Regions from separate parts of the Homo sapiens genome. Here regions 1 and 2 are each reported to be linked to region 3. Evidence: microRNA targets listed by miRTarBase, many of them from high-throughput screens and not tested one by one. Region 3 holds a microRNA gene; each other region holds the end of a gene's coding sequence.

Evidence for each region. Region 3 holds the annotated microRNA hsa-miR-1249-5p (AGGAGGGAGGAGAUGGGCCAAGUU, at 3,969-3,992, opposite strand). A microRNA usually pairs through its seed, bases 2 to 8, with sites in the 3' UTR of a target mRNA and lowers its output. Matches are read on the target gene's strand: a 7mer-m8 pairs with bases 2 to 8, a 7mer-A1 pairs with bases 2 to 7 and ends in A, and an 8mer does both.
Region 1: the mRNA of TMEM51 is a reported target of hsa-miR-1249-5p. Seed matches in the 3' UTR shown: 7mer-m8 at 899-905.
Region 2: miRTarBase lists NOVA2 as a target of hsa-miR-1249-5p. Seed matches in the 3' UTR shown: 7mer-m8 at 1,156-1,162, 7mer-m8 at 1,277-1,283, 7mer-m8 at 1,553-1,559, 8mer at 2,002-2,009 and 7mer-A1 at 3,270-3,276.

Annotation. Positions count from the first base shown.
Region 1 is chr1:15,218,867-15,226,041 of GRCh38, forward strand. TMEM51 (transmembrane protein 51) reads left to right here. Exons shown (of 4, transcript NM_001136218.2): 4 at 460-1,612. The coding sequence ends at 877. Among named protein-coding and RNA genes, the nearest start is that of FHAD1, 25 kb to the right of the region's middle.
Region 2 is chr19:45,933,599-45,940,786 of GRCh38, reverse strand. It overlaps NOVA2 (NOVA alternative splicing regulator 2), which reads left to right. Exons shown (of 4, transcript NM_002516.4): 4 at 1-7,053. The coding sequence ends at 924. Among named protein-coding and RNA genes, the nearest start is that of NANOS2, 22 kb to the right of the region's middle. RefSeq lists a cis regulatory region at 965-1,064.
Region 3 is chr22:45,197,025-45,204,199 of GRCh38, forward strand. It overlaps MIR1249 (microRNA 1249), which reads right to left and starts at 3,995; the gene lies at 3,930-3,995. It overlaps KIAA0930, which reads right to left. Exons shown (of 10, transcript NM_001009880.2): 6 at 6,821-6,961; 7 at 5,966-6,160; 8 at 2,849-3,011; 9 at 766-924; 10 at 1-192. The coding sequence ends at 152. RefSeq lists an enhancer at 5,303-5,447 and a cis regulatory region at 5,375.

The DNA of each region.
Region 1 (7,175 bases), not on the chromosome of region 3:
ATGTGACTAAAAGTGGGTATAAATACAATTTCCAAGAGCCCCTATGTGGCCAACTCAGGGTGTACTGCCTATGAGTTAGCCCTGCTCCACAAGAAGCAGTGCCCTTCAATAAAGAATTGTGGTCTAACACCACTGGCTCACCCTTGAATTCCTTCCTTGATGAAGCCAAGAACCCTCCCAGGCTAAGCCCCAATTTGGGGACTCACCTGTCCTGTCCTGCATGACTAGTACTTAACTCATAGTGTTGTCAGGAATCTGAAATTGGTTCATATTTGCTAAAATACTTAGAAGGGAGCCCAGCTCATAGTAAACACTTGAAGTATTCACTTTTATTGCCTCTAAGACCCATTTGTTATTTACAAGGCTGCTGTGTGTGGACTCTTTGGAGCCCATCCCTTTGGGATTTTGAATGACTTGAGCACAGGCTAACACTCTCCCTGTCTGTGTGTCTTCTTGCAGCCAGGAGGAAGAAGAGGAGGATGAGGAGGCTGCCTCAAGGTACTATGTTCCCAGCTACGAGGAAGTGATGAACACAAACTACTCAGAAGCAAGGGGAGAGGAGCAGAACCCGAGGTTGAGCATCTCTCTCCCGTCCTATGAGTCACTGACGGGGCTCGACGAGACCACCCCCACATCCACCAGGGCTGACGTGGAGGCCAGCCCTGGGAACCCCCCTGACAGGCAGAACTCTAAGTTGGCCAAACGACTGAAACCGCTGAAAGTTCGAAGGATTAAATCTGAAAAGCTTCACCTCAAAGACTTTAGGATCAACCTCCCAGACAAAAACGTCCCTCCTCCCTCGATAGAGCCTTTGACTCCTCCACCGCAGTATGATGAAGTCCAGGAGAAGGCCCCCGACACCCGGCCGCCCGACTGAATGGCCCCACTTGAGCCACGCTCCCTCCTGTCTCTCACACCTTTCACCCCCAAGACTCTAACAAAGCCACATGAGCCACAGTTGAGAAGCGGAGGGGCCAGCTGTGCATGGAGCCATTTGGATGGCGGCGGGCGGGGGGGGATTCTCTGTATCAGGAGTGACTTTGTTGCCCCACACAGCCTCCTGCTGCAGGTGCTTTGGAAAGAGATGCTGCCTTGGAGCTGGTGAATCTGTGGACCACATTCAAGGGTGTGGCACAGGCATCTTCCCATCCTTTTCACTCCGAATCGCTGGCGACACATTCTCCTTTCCAGCTAGGAAAGGGTTCCTCGCGGCTGGTTTAGATTGTGGTTGTTTGTTTTGCTTCTACTAAGACTGTTTTGTTTCAAAAAGGAAACAAGTTTTGTGTTTGCTGTCTACGCTGGAGTCCTGAACTGTGGGTAGAAAACACGACCTGGCTTTGTAGAAAGGACACAGGGCTGTTTTATGAACTAAGCGGTGAGGCTCAGGTGGCGGCTCTCGCAGAGCCCCTGATGCTGTTGTTCTTTGAGGGCTTAAGGCCTGATGAACGTAGGCACGTGATGCATAATAGTCTTCAATGGTACACTTAACTAGTCTCTTCTGTGTAACAGCAAAAAAAAAAAAAAAAAGAAGAAGAAAGAAAACTGTAGGAAATGTTCTTTTTGAAATGCCATGCAATGGAGCTTTTTGTAATAAAATATTTTATATGTAGTACATTTGGGTGCTGAGTTACTTTAGCAGCTCTCCCAATACTGACTTTCTTAGGGGAAAATGGCAATAATAATAGCTAATATGTACTGAATACTTATGCCCAGTGTTGTGCTAAGCATTTCACACATCACCCCATTTTGTCTGGACCCAAGTCTGGTAATAATGCCATTCTGTTGTCAGCTCACAGAGGCTTTAGGTTAATGTAAGTGCCCTGTGTCACACTGCTAGTAAGCAGTAGAGCTGGGGTTTGAGCCCAGGTTGCCTGGCTCCAAGGCCTGAGTTCTTACACACCCCCCATACAGCTCAGTGTAAAGAGCTTTTCCAGACTTTGAATGAAGACTTGCACTTCTCAAGTTCAGAGGTTGTCTCTGTCAACCTATGCACCCAAAAGAAAGTTCTGGTTGTTTGAACAGCAGCTTTCTACCTGTCTAGGCATCCTTCCTATCTCCCTCTGCTGAGAACTGGCCCAGGAGGGAGCTCAGTGCAGCCTGTCCTCTGCCCCCAGAACTGACAGGCTATGTAAGTGTAGGGGGTGGGTGAGCATGTCCCCCTGGAGGGGGAAAGTGAGTCTATGCAGCTCAGAAAAGCAGTGCAATGAATAAGAAATGCTCAGGGGATCGCACGCTGTTGAAGAGGGGACATAGGAGGGGAATGGAGACCTCTGGGGTCAGGATCTTGACCGTGGAGTGAGTGTCTGGGAAAACAGACCCAAGTCCAAAGGAAGCCTTCCTGCTATTGGTGGGCATGGAGCCAGCCTGCTGAGGAGTCTGTGTCAACCTGGTTGGAAGAGTAATTCCCAGGCCCAGATGTTTTCCTAACAAGCTCCGGTGGACAGGGAAGGGATGACAGGCACCGAGTTACCTTCTTATCTCAAGATTAGCAGTAGTGACTAAAGTTCGAAACTTTCACTTTCCTTATGCGATGCATTATTAAAAGGGGAGATGTTGGGATTGGCTTTGTGGCATGGGACAGACACCCAGAGGCCTGGTCCGTTCCCCGGCCCACTCCTGAGCCGACCCATGGCTCTTTGTGTCTCATGTCTCTGGGCTGGGCTTGCTTTCCTGTTACTTTCTGTGCTTCTTCCAAACCAGAGGATAAATGGGAGGAAAATAGAAGAGAAGAGTAAGGACCCAGATGAGTTGAGAAATGACTTTCTGGAAGAGCTCTCAATCTGGCTTCTGGTAGAAACCTTTTGGGGTGTCTCCCTAGTCTAGATCCTCCACGGGGGAGAAGGAGTTGTGAGGCTTGGGTGGGCTGATTGGTGGTCCCCAAAGGTATCAGACCCTAATCCCTGGAACCAGTGAATATTACCTCGTATGGTAAAGTTTTTGCAGATGTGATTAAGGATTGAAGATGATGGGATTGTCCTGGGTTTGCCAGGTGGGCCCTTAATGCCAACCACAAATGTCCTCACAAGCAAAAGACGGGGAGAGTATATACAGAAGAGGAGGAGACAATGTCATCCCAGAGGCAGAGATGGGAGTGATCAATCTACAAGTCCAGGAAGGCCGGCAGACACCGGAATCAGGAAGAAGCAAGGGATGGACTCTCCCCTAGAGCCCCTGAAGGATGCAGTCCCCGCTTACACCTTGATTTCAGGCCAGTTAATATGATTTTGGGCTTCTGGCCTCCAGAACTGTGAGAGAACAAGTCTCTGTTGTTATGGGTCACCAAGTTTGTAATAATTTGTTATAGGAAACCAATACAGAGCTCAATCTTCAACTCACTCGATATCAGCCCCCCTTTGGCCTCAACACTTCATGAGTCTTCCCACAGAGAGGAGTGCAACGGAAATAGCATTTAGGACCCCTGCTTGTATGTGTGGAAATGATCAAGTAGAAAATTATTCATATTATTCAGAGGATTATAATGGATATGTGGTATACACAATATAAAGCCTAGGCTCACCTCTTTCTAAAATGGGCAGAAAGAATGTTAGCTGGAAACCTTAACCACAGGTTTGGAGTCCTAAATAGTGCCTCGAGGCAAGGAAGTTCTCTGCAGTACTGAGTTAAAACCACCTGTCAAAGCAGGAGGCCACCTTTACTCAAAATTCCTCAAAGCACATTTGCCCTGTTTGTTTATTGGTTCAGAGCTATCATTATCATCCTCAGGACTCTCTCTTTCTCTTTGGACTAGAAAAGAAAAGAAGAAAGGAAGAAAAAGGAAGAAGGATAGAAAGGAGGAAGGAAGATAAATAGAAAGGGGAAGGAAGGGAGGGAGAGAAGGAAAGGAAGGGAAGGGAAGGGAGAAGGGAGGGAAGGGAAGAAGGAAAGGAAGGAAGGAAAGGAAGGGGAAGGGGAAGGGAGGAGAAGGAAAAGGAAGGGAAGGGAAGGGAGGGGAGGGAAGTGAAGGCGGAAAAAAAAGGGAGAAGCTAAGAAGGCAAGAACCAGAAGACTAGTTCTTTTCTTTGCTCCCAATCATGTTTTTGTCCCTAATGTAAACATAAGAGCACAAACATGGGGGAAATGCAAGTAGCAACCCAAATGGCCCCAGGGCTATGAAAGAGCAGCAAGAAGAAATCTGAATGAATTCCAGTTTTTTAAAGTCCCACTCAGCACTCCCACCCTACTCAAAAGGACAGATCTTAGCAGCTTGTTGGGATCATGTGACATCCATGCTTTCAAGTCACAGCTGATTGGATCTGAGGTATGTATCCGGGATACCCAGGGAGAACCAATCAGAAGCTGAGTTTGGCTAGGCAAGTCTTTCCCAGGAGCCCAGCTTTGGATGGAGAGGTCAGTTCTGAGTGATGTGGTCTCAGGGGTTAGGTGACTGTTTGGGGGCCATCAGGGTGGGTCACGGACACGTGAGGCAGGAGAAGCCACTCTGCAGACAGAGAATGGAGTTAACTGCTCAAATACACAGCCATGAAAAATGAGCCTCAGAGACCGCTGCCTCCTGGTGACTTTCTGGTCCTTGGTCTTTGGGAAGCCCAACTGTGCTGAGAGATGGTGTCCCCCAGTCAATTTCCTTCTTTAGCTTTGATCTTCTCTTTATTTTCTTTTTTGAGATCGAGTTTCGCTCTTGTTGCCCAGGCTGGAGTGCAATGGCGCAATCTTGGCTCACTGCAACCTCCACCTCCTGCCTCAGCCTCCCAAGCGATTCTCCTGCCTCAGCCTCCCAAGTAGCTGGGCTTACAGGCGTGTGCTACCACACCTGGCTAATTTTGTATTCTTAGTAGAGAAGGCATCTCACCATGTTGGTCAGGCTGGTCTTGAACTCCTGACCTCAAGTGATCCACCCGCCTTGGCCTCCCAAAGTGCTGGGATTACAGGTGTGAGCCACTGTACCTGGCCCGCTTTGATCTTGAATTTAACTGAAATCCTTGAGGACAGAATGGCCTTTCCATTGTCCACAGTGCTGGGCCCAGAGTTGGTACTCCACCTAACCTCGATTTTGATTTTTCCTTTCCTCTGACTGGTTGCAGTTCTGGGGAAGGGGAGCCACGAGCAGGTGCTTAAGGCACAAGACTGGAGCATGACTGTGACTGCAGTGTAGACCACTGCCTGGGGAGTGCAGCTGAACCAGCTGGATCCATCCATTTCCACGACTGCTTACTCAGTGCCTGTTAGATGCCAGGTACTGCTCTAGGCTCCAGGATACAGCAGTGAAGCTAAAGCCTGCTCTTCATGGGGAAGATTCGTGCTTGGGCACTGCTTCCCAAAGCAGGTCCTGTGGCCTTGGGTGACAGTCACCTTTGGGTGATCATTCGGGACTGACTAGTTGAACTGGGTGCAATACATTTGAAAGCTGCAGGGTAGCCACATGCACAGAGAAAGCCAGTCCTGCAGGAAGAGATGGAGGAAGCAGAAGGGCACGGAGGAAACAGCCCTCCACAGAAAGAGACAGATTTGCTGCTTTGTAGTTCCTGGTTGGGGAGCCTGGCCACACACTGTGACCTTTGGGTATATACAACACACCAGTCTGCTTTCAATAATGCCTATCTTTCCTTAAGCAAGTTGGAGTGGGCTTCTGTTATTTGAAGCCACATGTCCTGAAATGACTCACTTCCGCATGGACAAGCATGAGATGGCAAAGCCGAAATCAATCCACAAGCGTCCTGAGATACTGAAAATGGGACGCAGCTGTATCGCTGGAAATGTGTGGATCAACTGAACCACAGGTTCTAAAAGGCAGTACAAGAAAAGCCCTTCTGAGGATTCGTGGACTTCTTTCTTATTGTAAAGGCCCTGACAAGGACCATTTAGCTCCTAGGACAAACCATGCTGCATATTCTGGTGTGGAGTTACAGAAGGACAGCCCTTGTTATGTCTGCAAGCATGGAGGGTGGGAGAAAGTCTTCCCACCTGAGCCTCGATCTCTTCACCAGCAAAATGGAAGTTCCTCATTTTGTGATGAGTACCTGAAACCAACACAGGTAAAGTGCCCCCACTGCACCCGGCACAGACAAAGCAAGGGGGCCAGGCACAGTGGCTCATGCCTATAACCCAGCACTTTGGAAGGCCAAGGCGGGCAGATCACTTGAGGTCAGCAGTTCAAGACCAGCCTAGCCAACATAGTGAAACCCTGTCTCTACTACAAAATTTAGCCAGGTGTGGTGGCACACTCCTGTAATTCCAGCTACTGGGGAGGCTGAGGCACGAGAATCACTTGAATCAGGGAGGTGGAGGTTGCAGTGAGCTGGGATTGCATCACTGCACTCCAGTCTGGAAGGCAGAGTGAAACTGTGTCTCAAAAAAAGGGAAGGAAGGAAGGAGGAGGGGAGGGGAGGGGAGGGAGGGGAAGGGGAAGGAAGGTAGGACAGTGCAGCTGTGATGAAGCCACAGTCGGATGGAAAACTGACCTGAGATCTAAGCGCTTCTCCCTGCATGAGCCTCACACTCACTTCTACAAGTGTGTTCAGAGAAAATTCACCAAACGCCACAAGTCTGTGAGGCATCTTCACAGAAAGCCAGCTTCAGGGAAACAGCAGCCAGGCCGCGTAATGAAGGCCAACTGAGGCAGCCCCCGGGGTCAGCCTAGCCCAGGGCTTGGGCCCTCCATCATGGAGAGTGGTCAAGTCAGTCTGTTTGGTTTGGTTTTCAGTCTGATGCCATGTTGTCAGCACATTCAGAAGGGAGCAGCTTGTCCTAAGACAGTGAATCTCAGGAGGCCACAGCTGTCAGGACTTTTGATTTCCTGGCGATTCCTCAAGTGTATTCTGCTGGATTTTAATGGGTGGGTGTGGAAAAGTCCCTAATTAGATCCATTTGGAAATCCCTGAGTGAAACAAAGTCTATTTTTATTGCGCACCTACGAGCCAGCAGGAGAAAGCTGTGTGCTTGTCTCTTTGCAGCAATGCAGCTGACCTCGGAAATGATGTCCAAGAATGCCTGAAGCTGAGATGGAAAGTGGCAGCACCTACTATGTGCCAGGTGCTCTGGATAAAGCTGCAAAAAAAAAAAAAAAAAAAAAAAAATGGACCAAGTCCTTGCCGACACAGAGGTGACATTCTGGGTGGAGCCCGAACAGAGGATGAAAAATATGTATACGGTATAAACTCAGAAAATGAGAAGAAAAATAAAGCTGGGTGAAGAACAGGAGGTGAGAGGGGCTCACCTTC
Region 2 (7,188 bases), not on the chromosome of region 3:
CCCGAGCAGGTGCACAAGGCCGTGAGCGCCATCGTGCAGAAGGTACAAGAAGACCCCCAGAGCAGCAGCTGCCTCAACATCAGCTACGCCAACGTGGCAGGCCCCGTGGCCAACTCCAACCCCACCGGCTCTCCGTACGCCAGCCCCGCGGATGTGCTGCCAGCCGCGGCCGCAGCGTCGGCCGCCGCCGCCTCCGGCCTGCTGGGCCCCGCCGGGCTGGCTGGCGTGGGGGCCTTTCCCGCCGCGCTGCCCGCCTTCTCAGGCACCGACCTGCTGGCCATCAGCACGGCGCTTAACACGCTGGCAAGTTACGGCTACAACACCAACTCCCTGGGCCTGGGCCTCAACTCGGCCGCAGCTTCCGGCGTCCTGGCCGCCGTGGCCGCCGGGGCCAACCCAGCAGCCGCCGCCGCCGCCAACCTCCTGGCATCCTACGCGGGCGAGGCCGGGGCCGGGCCAGCCGGAGGGGCCGCCCCGCCGCCGCCCCCGCCTCCCGGAGCCCTGGGGTCCTTTGCGTTGGCCGCAGCCGCCAACGGCTACCTCGGGGCCGGGGCGGGCGGCGGGGCGGGCGGAGGGGGCGGCCCGCTGGTGGCCGCTGCAGCCGCGGCCGGGGCGGCCGGGGGCTTCCTGACGGCGGAGAAGCTGGCGGCTGAGAGTGCCAAGGAGCTGGTGGAGATTGCGGTGCCTGAGAACCTGGTGGGAGCCATCCTGGGGAAGGGGGGCAAGACGTTGGTGGAGTACCAGGAGCTGACGGGCGCTCGCATCCAGATCTCCAAGAAGGGCGAGTTCCTGCCAGGCACGCGGAACCGGCGGGTCACCATCACGGGCAGCCCCGCGGCCACGCAAGCCGCTCAATACCTCATCAGTCAGCGGGTCACCTACGAGCAGGGAGTGAGGGCCTCAAACCCCCAGAAAGTGGGATGAGGCCTGTGGTGTGTGCTCCCACCCTTTTCTCTCCTCCCATCTCCTCCTCTTCCCTCTCCTCCTCCCCCCCAACTCCTGACCTCAGCTTGGTGTAGTCCTGCTCCTCTTGGGATGGGGCTGGGGTAGGCCCGACTGCACCCTCCCCTTCTGGTAGTCATAGGCAGGATTGAGTGACGGTTGGGAAGGGGGCTCAGAAGCCCCCTCCCCAGCCCGGAACTGACCCCTCCTTCCTCCCTCCCTGTGCTTGGCTGGGCCTGACCCTTCCTGTCCCAGGGCCCAGGTCTGTGTGATATCTGTATATATTGCATTTTGTTGATTTTAATAGAAAACAAAGCGTTATTTTCTCTTTCTTTCCCTCCTTTTTTTTTTTTTTTTTTTTTTTGGTAAGGATTTTTTCCCCCTTTATAAGTTTTTGTTTCCATATGGGAGGAGGGGAGGGAGCCTCTGGGTCACCCAGAATGAGGGGCCTTCCCAAAACACAACACCCCACCTCTCTGCTTTCAGTTCTAGATCTGAGGGAAGCCATGGGAGTAGAGGTAGCAGAGGCGTCTGAGCTGAAATGGGGCATTTGGAGCAAGGACCCCAGAGTTCCCAGATCTTCTCAGCTACTCTCCTCCCACTGGAGCTGTCCCTCCTAGGTGGGAATGTTCACTCTTTTGTTGTCAGGTTGTATGGGGGGGCAGGGACAGTGCTGCTGGGAAGGATGCCAGCTCTGGGATTGGGCCAGTCCTGTGGGCAAGACTTGCAAGAGGCTGGATCAACTTGGTGTGGTATCTCTGATGGCTTAGAGTAATGGCAATGAGGGTCTCTGTTGTGATGTCACTGAGTACTTTCTGGGGTGCTTCTGGGCACCCCTTATGATGTCACAGGAAGCAGTTCCTCAGAGGTTACTTCCTGTGAACATAAGGGAGCAGGTACTTCCTGTGATGTCTCAATGAGTTCTTCCTTGAAGGTCACTTTGGTGATATCATGGGAAGGTGTACTTCCGGTGATGCCTAGAGGTCACGTCCTGTGATGTCATTAGGCTGAAGCATGTACTTCCTGTATTGGACAGTGACCAGTCTCTGACCTGCCTTCTCCCTCCACACCCTTCTTTGGTGGGTGTTGGCCTGGGGGTCTTCCTAGGAAGAGAATAAGGCACGGGACTTGGATCCAATCTGGAGGACTCTAACGGAAAAAAACCAATATTGTCAGGGTCATCTCCATTCAAACACGTCAAGTCTGCGAACTCGCCCTGGAGGGAGGGGTGGGAGATGGACCTAGTGCAAACTACTGTTAAAGACCTCCCTTCCCACCCCTGCCTTTTGTGTGCATGCCTGTGTCTGCGTGGCTTTGTTTCATTGAATCGGGTGAGCCAAGTGTGTGGTGGCTCTGTCAGGCCAGTATGGCCAGGTGTAGAGTTCAGTGAGCCATAGTAGGGTCCCTTGGGCCAGAATGCTTCGTGTGGTCTGATAGGTTAGATTGGTTTGGTGGCTTCCAGCAAGCTGGCATACTTCGGTGATGTCTGATGGATCAGAATGTTTTGGTGTGCTCACCAGGGGCTCTGGAGAACTAGAATGTTCTGATGGAGTCTGACAAGCCAGGCGGCCTTGAGAGTTGGTTTAGGAGTGGCTCCCTGAGTGCTGTGGCTGTGGTCAGCTCTAAGGACCTGTTGGCAGACTGAGATTTCAGGGCCTGACAACCATGTAGACTAGGATAGCTGAGACCTCCCTCTACCCCCACCCATCTCCCTCTCTTCCTTGGAGACCACCTCCACTTTCTCCAACCCAAAGCAGGGCGCCCAGTGCCCTGGTTCCATCATCAGCATCTCTGGGGGAGGGGCGCCCCATGCCCACCCTCTCCCCCATTTGTCCGCCTCCTAGGTCTTCCAAACCCTTTTCTTCTCTATGACTTTGGGGGAAATCCAGCCTCCTTGTCTCTCTCCTAAAAAAGGAGGGAAGAAAAGCCACAGAGACAATTCCTGCCCCTAAAGCCTAGGAGATCCCTCTCCCTTGCTAGAGAGCCACCCCCAAATCAAAATGTGAAAATCCCTAGAAAGCAATAGCCTTCGAGGTACCTTGCACTGAATTTCCCACCCCAGCCCTTCCACCCGATGGGAGGCTGTAACTTGGGCACTGGGGTGACTTTTTCCATGCCCTTGTCATCTCCAGGGTGGGAGGCAGGCCCCACTTCCCCTCCCCTATCCCCCACTTCCCATTGTTGTTGCCCCACCCCTAATCTCCAGACTGAACCCAGATGGAGATCTGAGTGCCAAAACAATTCTTGATGTAACTTTGTACATATCTTCTACTACCGTTGGGGGCTCTTGGGGTTAGAGGTGGGGGCGGCTCTGTGGGCCATTGCTCCCCTCCACCTCTCAAAAGACCTTACAGTATTTCACAGTATCTCTACCCGCACGCGAGTATTACAGTATCTAGCTGGAATATCCCCCTACAGCCCCCCAGGACCCTATGAGGAAGGGAAGGAGCCAGGGAGAGTGAAGTAAGGTCTGGGACTGGGGAGGTGGGATCTGAATGAACTCATTTGCATATCATTTGCATCCTCCGCTTGGCAGCCGCTTTCTACAAACTCATTCACTGGAGTCTGGGTCCCAATCAGCCGGGTCCAGGACTCCTCTCACACAGACACATCTCCGGAGGCTGGGCCTCCTGAAAAGTGTTTGCTTGGGGTGTCTGTGTAACAACCCCTCCCTATTCATATTTCTTGGGGACCCCCTACCCAGCCAGCCAGGGTGATCTGAAAGGTATACTTTGCTAGCTCAGTGAGCTAGTTCACTCACCATGTTGGTGAGCAGAGAGCCACACCTTTCCCCATTTTACCTTGGGAAACTCACTCCACCATCTTTGCCATCTCTTGAAAGTCCCTTCTGCAATCTGACCTCAATCTTTTGTGCTGCAGTTTGTCCAGAGGGGACACAGATGTGGGGTCAGGGATGAGGATTATTGAAAAACCCATCATCTCTTTTTTTTTCCCCGTCTCCCTATTAGCCAATCCGATCTCAGAGTCTCTGAGTGGCCTCCTTGCACCCTTCTCTTCAGCACCCAGTAGGTGCTTAATAAGTGTTTGCTGCATTGGATTATCTCCCTATTCCTTCTCATTTGCCCTCTAGCTTCCCATACCTTCTCCAAGTGTCTTCCTCCCTTTCTTTGTCTGGCTCCCTATGACTTTCTATTTTTTTTTCCTCCGTGTGGTTCCCATTGTTTTCTGTCCTGTCTCTATCTTAGTCTTTGTCTGTCTTCCTCCTTTCCTCAAATGTCTCAACTCTCTCTCCCCAATTTCCCCATTTAAAAAAAAAAAAAAGTGCCAAACTTCCTTGGAACTGAGCCGCTCTGGGGGGAGAGGACCTTGGATAGAGGGGAGGAAATGGGACCATTTCTCTTTGAGGAGGTCCCTAAGAGGCATTGCAAAAGTGTGGACATGGAGCTAAATTGGGTCCCCCTTCCACAGCCCTCCCACCCTGAGTTTTTCTTAGAATCTTTGTAAGAAAAAAAAAAAAAGACAGAAAAAAGCTCTCCTTTTCAACTTACCCCTATCCTTTTGGGTCCCCCCAAATTCCACCAGCCAAGGAGAATCCCACTTGCCAACTTCCTGGCAAATCTATGGAAACTGGGGAGGAGGAGACAAGCTCAACTCCTCCTCTGCTAGCCCAAGGGGCGGTACCAACTGGATTCAAGAGAAGGACCTCAAAGCTCCTATGAGAAGAGGGGGTTCGATGTGCCAAATTAACCTCCTTCATCCCCCATCTCAGGGGGCTCTGAGCCAACCTGCCCAGCCACCTTCTTCTGCCCTGTCCCAGCCACCTCTACATGGGCAAGGAGGCTTCACTGCAATAATTAGTAGGGGTGGTGATCAGAAGACAATGATTTTGCCGTTTCTATCTGCCCTAACGCCTACCCTGGACTTGTAGTTGGGAATTATGGGTATCCCAAGTGGATGTTGATAAAAGCCGACCTATAGATGGTTGGGGACCTCTACTTGGAACACCAGGGTGTCGCTTATCTCCGAGGTGTATTTCCTCTCCCCTCTGGACCACCAAATCCTTCAATATCCCCTCATTCTGTTTCTCCTCCCTGTTCCTCCATCCCACATCCTCCTTCTTACTTTGTTTTGATTGGTGGCCAATTGTTTGGAAAATGAGAGGAGTCCCCCTGAATGGATGATTGCTGTTTCAGGACCGGGATTAGAGGCTGTGATAGACTGTGCAGTGGCAAAAGTATTAACAAGAGTGGCGATGAGGATGGCAGTTGGGGCGTCCAGGCTGCTGACTGAGTGCCCGCCTGTCGGTACAGCCAGCCAGGCCTTCGACAAGCACCTGCCTGGAAACCGGGCTCGCTGTCCTGAAAGCCTGGACTGGATGTCACGATGGGGAGAACGGGATCGCGATACCCAAGCTGGGGCACAGGCGAGCCAGGGACACTGGTTTACTGGGGTGATAACACCCAGCCCTGCTATCGCGATCCGTTTGCACTGTGGTCAGCTGTCTCCACGCCGTGGTTGGAGAGGGCTTGTCTCCGGGCGCCACTGCTGGTGTGTATGGTCTGTCTTAGTGTCCCCTGCAAGTTGCATTGGAGATTGCTGGGTGGCAGGGAGGGAAATGGGAAGAGAATCTGTGGGGTCATGGTGGTGAAGGCTGCTGGTTTTTAATCCCTTCTCAACCAGTCCAGGACACTTGTCTCCCAGAGATAACTGGGGGGGGACTGCCTAACCCCCCCTCCCCCACCCCTTTCCCTACCCCACCTCTCCCCCCAAAACCACCAACCTCTCATCTTCTAAGTGACTCCATCACCACCGGCCACCGGGACCTGCGGCCTCATTGCTCCAGCCCGCCCCACTCGACCGTCAGACTCGCTCATCGAACTCTTTTTGATTAACCCTTTCTGTGTTCATCCCACGGAAAACTGTGTGTCCGGCAGGGGGGAGGGGGGAGGCTAGGGGCAGTTGCTACCTTTCCTCCATCTCCTCCCACCACCCATGCCTCCCCACCCGCACCCCATCCCATGCCCCACCCCCATCCCTCACCCCTAGGGTCTGCCCCACCCTGGGGATTGACATCCTCTATAAATATCTATGCTATTTGGCTTTGTCCCTTTAAAAGGCGGGTCCAGGGGCGTGGCCTCCCTCAAATGGAGCGCTCACTCTGACCCCCTCCTTCGTGTGCCCCCCACACACTCCCCACGCCTTCATTGTAAATAGTCACTTTTGTACTGGGTTTGAGCCAGGGGACGTGGGGAGTCATTTTTCTTTTCTTTATGTTGGCATCTCAGGCCACTGGAGGCATGGCCCACATCCCGGGTCGATTTGGGAGAATTTTAAGGTATGTCCCCTCACCTGTCCCCATCGCTAAGGATTTCAAGCTATCAGTATTACTCTAGAGGGATGGGGTGCATAGATTCCCCGGCAGGGTGGTGGGAGAGGTGTGGAAAGGTGTAGTCTGGGAGGATGCCTCCGTTTTCCCCTTCTGTGAAATGGATTCATCCTCCAATTTCCCTGAGGAGCCTCAGTGAGATAATGGTGGAGTCAGAGGAGCTAGAACCTCTCTTCCCCCTTTCTCTGTTGGAGACAGGGTAGCAGAAGAATGGGGGACAGGGGAGGCTGCAGGGCCATCTTTGGAGAACCGATTGCTAAATCCTTCTTAGGACCTTAAGGTAGCCTCCTCTCCAGGCTTGTTCTCCCTCTTGGAATATGGGGAGGACTGGAGGACCTCTAAGGTCCCTTGGTTCTCCCCAGTCCTTAGATTAAAAGGCCCAGGCCCCAGGCTGGCCCCCTGCCTGCTGTCCCACTCCTTCATTCCATTTCTTGGAATGTGGCCATGCCTCCAGTGCCTCCATTCAACCCCCTCTAACTGATTCCTTCCATCCTCTGCGACCAGAGACGCCGCCCGCCTCCTGCCCACCACCTCCAGAAGCTCCTGGCTGGGGTGCACTGCCGTCTCCTCCCACTCCCCACATTGCCATGCCTGGGCCACGCCCACCCCACCCACTCACCCACCCCCAGTGTCCGTTGTGTGACCTAGTGCACCATGTATTAGCTTCCATGGCCCCCACCCCAGCCCCCACCACACCCCCTTTCCCCACCCCTTTCCCCTCGGCGACTTCACCTTTTTTTGCCGCGATAAACGCCATCTCAGCATCTGTGTCTAATGTTGTCTTTTTTGCTTGACATCACACACTCCTTCTTAACCCATCCCCTTCCCTCTCCCTCCTCCCTGCACCTCCACCCTCATCCTAAATTCTTTCCCCCTTTCCCCCAGGGCTCTGGGCATTT
Region 3 (7,175 bases):
GGCCCCGGCCCCGGGAGTCGAGTGGCCTCGCCTGGCTGCGGCTCCAGCACTGGCGTGCCATCGCAGACCCCGGTGGCGGTGGACAGGTAGGCACTTGGCAGCACTCCGAGGGCTGGGCCCGGCCGGGGCTCTGCGCAGGCTCCGCACGCGGCTAGGTCATCAGGATGGGCTTCTGCCGAACTTCCAGGATGTCTAGGGCCGGCAGGAGGGAAGCAGGTGAAACAGTAACCCTCAACAGCGGTGAGTGCTATGGTCACGGCAGTGCCACTTCTGAAGGAAGCCCGCCTCAGCCACTCATGCATCTCCTCTCCAGGCCTCACAGACTGCAGAGGAGACGTGTCTCCACCATCCTCACCCTGCAGACTGGGAAATGGGCTCGCAGCAACGGCACACCCTGCAGGGCCTCAGGTGCAAGCTGGTGTGGGGGCCAGAGCCACTGCCTGTCACAGCTGCTGCAGGCCTGGGTCAGCGAGGTGGCCTGAGAGCCTCCCCTCGCCCGTGAGTAACACACACCTGGGCATCTGTGGCCACTCAAGAGGGGACAGCAGGTGCGCCAGAAAGGTGAACAAAGGGAGGACTTCAGCTCTGGGAAAGCTACGGCTCCACCCAAAGTCTGAGACAAAGAGGCCAAGAGCCCTGCAAAGAAACCCAACCAACCGACAGGACAGGGCGGGATGACTCCGGGTGGCTCACAAGTACCAAGGCCCTGGAGGCAGAGCTGGCTGTGAGAAGGTGCGGCTGCTTCCCCACATCCGCCAGCATTACCTGTTAAAATCCGATGCAGCGGCAACGTGACGTAGGTTAAGTGTGCATAGAGAAGGAAGTTTCCATCTGCTCTGTTCAGCTTCAGCCAGGACCCGACCAGGGACCGTCCTGTGCCCGACAGGGACCGAGACCGCAGGTTGGTTGCATTGTGCAGATCGGCTGGAGGAAAGAAGGCCAGGTCAAGGCCCCCACAGCATGGGACGCGGCGGGAGCAGCAGGAGGCCAGCTCCCAGTCCAGGCTGAGGCCAAACTCTGCTGAGGCCAGGACGCTCCTTACCAACACCCCCACACCAGCACCCACACGCTCCAGAGCTGCTGCCTCCTCGCCTGTAACACCCCTCCCTGCTTCCTCTGGCCCAGACCCAGGCCTCCAACTCCAGGAAGACTTTGGCCACCCCCCTCATCTCTCTCTTCTCTGTCACAAGCTTAGTCTCCTCCGGGGGTTCTGGCACACACACTGTGTAATTCTCTGCTTCTGCAGGCCCTGTCCCTGGAACTAGGCACCGCCACCTGCAGAGCATGGGAGCAGCAAGGCTGAGCCGACCTGCACCATTACCCAGTCCTGCGGTCCAGGCTGGGGGAACCTGCCCCAGAGAGGCAGACTAGGGCAGTGATCAGTACTTCTTACTGATTCGGGAACGGGCCCAGGTGGGGAAGGGGCTTGCCCAAGTTCACACAAGAGCAGGTCGAGGCCAGTGCTGGAGTCCCTGACCCAGGCCAGGGCCTTGAGCAGGTGGGACACCCCTGCTTCTTGGTCCCAGTGGTCAGGACAAAGACTGCCACCTCTTCTGATCAATGCTGCAGCCCTGCTCCCTGCTGGGGGAGGTGCTCAGTGGGAGTTGTCAGCGAATCCTTCACGTCGTTTTTTTTTGTTTGTTTTGAGATGGAATCTCACTCTTGCCCAGGCTCGAGTGCAGTGGCACGATCTCGGCTCACCGCAACCTCTGCCTCCCAGGTTCAAGAGATTCTCCTGCCTCAGCCTCCTGAGTAGCTGGGATTACAGGCGCCCACCACCATGCCCGGCTAATTTTTTGTATTTTTAGTAGAGACAGGGTTTCACCATGTTGGCCAGGCTGGTCTCGAACTCCTGACCTCAGGTGATCCACCCGCCTCGGTCTCGCTAAGTGCTGGAATTACAGGGGTGAGCCACTGTGCCTGGCCAATCCTTCACTTCCATACACTCAACAGACACGCACACAGTGCGGAGCCAGGCGCCCGCTGGGTCCTGAGGATGACAGTGAGGAAGGCACGTGGTCCATGCCAGCAGAGCATGGCAGAACTTCCCAACCTGTCTGTGACGGCCACGCCTGTCCCCAGGAGCCATTTCCCACAGAGACTGCTGAGTGGCATTTTAAATATGCTAATCTGATTGTGTCACTCCCTTGCTTAAAACCCCTCAGAGGCCTCCCTGGGGGCTCTGGGAACAACTCCTGTATTCTGGAAGGTCACTGAGCGAGGACAGGGAGCAGGCACGGGTGCTCAGGAGAGAGTGCAGACTGTGCCTGGGCAGGACTAAGGGGCATGGTAACACCCAGATACAGACAACCGGAGTCCAGGGGACAGGGGCACAGGAAGGCCCCGGGGGTAGGCTGCACGAGGTGGCGACTGTGTCACCAAAGAGCACGTGGTTCTGGGAGGCTGCACAGAGCCAGGAGGGCCAGGCCTCACCCTGAGGGCGAGCTGGCCCAAGGCAGCGCAAGGGAGGGAAGCCCTCCTCTCTCCCGCCACACCCCGTGTGTGCGGAGCCATCAGATCACCCATCCGCTTTCTTCCTTAAGCAGGCTGAAAAGCCTTAGAAAGGTGGGAAATCCCCTGAAACTGACCAACTGCTGCACATCTGCGCTCCAAGCACTCTGCCAAGGAGACGCCTGAGCCCACCAGGACGGGACCCCCAGAGGCAGCCATTTCTGCCTGTCCCCAGCTCTACCCCTCAGCTCCTGGAGGGCTGCCTGGCACATGGCACCCACTCTCTAAGTGCTGCTGAATGAACAAATGAATGAATGAATAAATGAATGAATGACTGGTCTGGATCAAGAAGAGACTGAAGGGCACGGGGACCCTAGGGCACGGAGTGGGGGGTCACCTCCACCGTCGTCCTCCCGGAAGAACTCCTCGCTGTCGTTGGCCGAGTGCGACTTCTTCATCTCAGCGATCCGGTTCCGGGGCACCTTCCTCTTGAGGGATGGGGAGAAGAAGGCAGGCCGGTTGTTCCGTTCTGGGGTGGGGGGTGTGCTGAAGGAGGTCACCTGGGAACAAGCAGCCAAAGTCACCAGAGTAGCAGAACAGCCCCCTCCCCGGGGGTCCCAACGCCCCTCCTATCCCACCCTCAAACAACCTGACACAGCTCCCAGGGAAGAGGCCGCTGGCCCAGGAGGACCCAGGCCCAGCCGGCCCGTGCTAGGTGGGGCCTAGAGACTGGAAGATGCGTTCCAGCCCAGGGGCCAGCAGGACACCTGGCCACCAGTGCTACCCGAGGAGGGGCCAGGCTGCTGCCGCAAATGGCAGAAAGACCCCCCTCCTCTGGGCCTCAAACAGTGGGTAGGGGGTGTTCAAGCACAAAGTAACAACAGCTGCTGACGCTGAGTGAGCACTGGCCCCACACACAGACCCTCTGAGCCTCCAGCTCCGTGAGACAGGGGCTAGCGTCAGCCCATCTGACACATGGGGAAACTAAGGCAGGGACCGAGACCCTGGCTTGCCTGTGGTCACCAAGCAGGACGGCAGCAGCCCTGTCTTCTGTCCCCCAGGGCCACGCTCCTCATCCTACTTCTCAGGGCTGACGTGGCCCCATCCCTCTCATTCCCAGCACCCTTCACAGGAAATACTGTGCTAAGTAGCTCTATGCCTCTGTCTTCTCCCCACTTCTAATCACGTTTGGTTCTGTTCACCAAACATTCACACCCACTCAGGGCCAGGCAGGCACAGCACTAAGGACAGACAGGCACATTGCAGGTCCCTGCCCTCAAGGAGCTCACAGTCTGCTGGGGTGACAGACTCAGAGAGTGACAACCATAGACAGCATGCTGGCTGTGGAGACAGAGAAAGAGAAGCACAGGATACATGAAGCACAGAGGCAAAAGGGATCCACAGCCTGGGAAATCAGGGAAGGCTTCCTGGAGGAGATGCCGCTGGAGCTGGGTCTTGAAGGACGAGTAGGAGTTCGCCAGGTGAAGAAGGGGGGGAAGGGCGTTCCAGCCAGAGGGAACTTGGCCCATCTCCTCCCTCCTCCCCATGCCAACAATAATCTGAGGAGCAGGATGAGCTGGGACTGAGACTTCGGGAGCCCCGTCAGCCTCCTCGTCACGGCTCCGACATCCACCAAAGTCCTGGCAGCTGCTGGGCTCCAGACGGTGTTCCCACAAGCCGGGGAAGGTTTTTAAAAGATAAAAGAAACAAACAGCAGCAACCACAATACACAGAGTCAGCATGTGTCACGCACTGGCTCCAGACGACCCCGCCAGAGAAGGAGACAGGTAATAGCAGGCGCACAGGCGGCAGTCCCCAGGGGCCAGCCCTGCTGCTGACCCTGTGTGACCCTAGCACATCCCTCCTCCTGAATCCCAGGGCTGCCCAGCTGCTAAGGCACCAGGGACTTTCACACCCCTCACAGCCACTCCCGCTGGACAGATGGGAAAACCAAGGCTCAGGCAGGTCTAGTGACCTGTAGTCACTCAGCCCTCAGGCTGTGGCTGGAGGTGGCACCCGGGTTTGTCCAGCCCAGAGCTCGGGCCACATCTTCGTAAGGACTTTCACACACACATTTTGTCAGAGTCCCAGGGCATAATTTAGGACCAGGGAGAAGAACCAGGCCCTTTATCTCGGAAACAAACTCAGAAATATAAACCACCTCATTCCAAAGACAAGAGAGGCCCCTGCCTGGAATTCTCACCCATCTTTGCAAAAAATAGCACTTGCTGTCTTTGGCTTGCAAAACACATTCATTGCAGAAGATACCTCCCCCCCAAAAAAAGATATACAGAAGAGAAAGAAAACCAACATCTGACCACCCGGAGATATGCATGATTCAGATCTTTCTCGAACTAAAAGTATAACAAACGCACACTCCCTCATCTCAGGCATGCCTGCGGTAATGCATCGTTTACATTCCCACGCCTCTGCTTTCCAAGTAGGTCAACAGCAACTACTGCAGCTGCCACCTGGGAATCCTCCTGAGGGCCAAGCCCCGGATTCCTCAAAGCCTCCCAAATACTGAAGGAGCAGGTATCCTCGTGCCCTGTTTCTAGATGAGAAAACTGAGGCTTGGAGAGGAAAAGAGACACACCCAAGGTTATGAGAGCAGCAGAGCAGGATTCTGGCTGTGGGTGGCGTCTCTCCTGGACAATGGCTGGGCAAGACTGCCCCTGGACCTGTGCCAAGGGCACCCCCCTGCCCAGCACACCTGTACTCTTCCAAGAACTACAGCTCTGGGCAGTCCCTCTGGAAGAACCAGGTAGAGCAAAGCAGCCAGTGGGCTGGAGACCTTCTCCTGCCTGTGCCCCACCAAAGGCTTCTGGGAACAAAGCTGCTGCTGACCTCAGCCTCCCGCCCTGGGGAAGGAGAGTGGCCTAGGCAGAGCAGGGCCCCAAGCCCAGTGCTATCCCAAGAGACCTTGTGACCTGGGGCAAGCTGGCAAGTCTGGTTTCCGGCTGTGCGAGGCAGGAACGCCTCTCCTGCAGCAGAACCTCCTACAAACCGCGGGGCAAAGAGCTGGGTGGCCTAGGCCTCTGCATGCGCTGGCTGACCCTCAGTCACCATCATCCCCATCTGACTCACCGGGGAAGGCCGGCCACGTGCCCACGCTCACCCAGCAGGTCCACCCAGGCAGGCGCCAGGGCCGGGCCTGGGTCCCCAGCCAGTCTCTTCTGCCCACTGGCTCTGTGGACTCAGCCTGGCTTTGTGGCATCTCAGGGAGGCAGAAAGAGCTCTGGCCCAGCACCAGCCTGCGGTGTGACCTTGGCCAGGCACAGCCCTCCAGGTCTGCAAGGCAGGAACGCCTCCCCTGCGGCAGTGCCTCCTACAAACCGCTAGGCAAAGAGAAGGGCTGGGTGGTCCGGGCCTCCGCACGCTCGGCACCTCGGCCTGCGCACTGGTGGTTGGGGATGACAACACCTATGTCCCCAGGGGGCCGTGAGCACGGGGGAGACGGTGGAAAGTGAACTTGACGGATGGGAGCCCCCGCCCCCAGCTGTGCAGCCCTTACCCGCTCGTGCATGGGCGAAGCTGGGCTGGAGTCCTCTTCAGTCCCACAGGGGGATGTGTCACCTGTAGACACTCGGCTGACCGCCATCTCGGCGTGGCCCTTGCCCTGGGGGCCCTTCATGCGCACAAACTCCATGTTGCTGTACTTGTAGAAGCCAAACGACATCTTCTGTGCCATGCGGGCGGCCACGCTCACCTGGGGGCCGGCGCGGGGCAGCCTGAGTCAGGGAGGTGGCGATGGCTCCATGGGGCCCCTCCCCAGGACATGAACAGCCAGGGCGACCATCCCTCAAGGAGCGGGGGCTGCCCGGGAGGGAGCGTCTGAGCTGGCAGGCGGGGCAGCTGGAATGGACCCACATCTCTGCCTGGTGCCCCTCCTGGTGCCCCTCCCACCGCCCCATGAACCACGGACCAGGCTGAGGACAGGGCCCCAGGCTGGCAGCAAGGCTGGCTGCGGATGGTGCCCGCTGGGGGAGAGGGGCCTGCCCACATCTGCTTGCTTAGTTGGGGGCGACTCGGAGCACTCCCAGGGCCAGTCGCAGGAAGCAAGTGACAGTGAGGAGGTGACAGCGACACCATCAGCCATCACTTCCCAGGGAACTAGAGACTGAGGAGGAAGTTCCCGCTCACATTTCAGATGAAGGCAAGTGGCCCGCATGGGCTGAGGCCGACCATGAAGAATGACGTTAAGAGGACCAGGGAGCGCCTAGAAGGAGCCCGGAGGGGCTGCAGGTACCCCTGGCGGCCGCTACCATGCACAAGCAGGCTGGGGGGCCCCATGGTATGGACCACGGTGGGCTGTGGAGCCGCCGTCCCCGGGCCCAGAAGAACACCCGTGAGGCCGCCCCGCACTCACCCGGTTGTCATACACCTTCTTGAGCGCCTCGTAGCGGATGGAGCCCTGAAAGATGACCCCCTGGAACGTGTTGGTTTTGTCACTAGCCACCAGCTCCACACAGACCATCTCTCCTTCCCCTACGGTCATGTCGCTGAACACCTGGGCCAGGACACAAAGAGACAGGGACGTGACCATCAGCTCCCACCGCCCACACCACAGCCTGGCCCAACTGGCAGGGAGGGCTGCTCAGAAAACCCCATTTTGCAGGGGACAACCGGCTGTCACACACTCCTGTGGCCCCATGCCCTCCGAGCCCCACAGGACAAGAACAGCCTCACACTGGGGCAGGGGCTGAGCAGCAGGGGAGGACAGG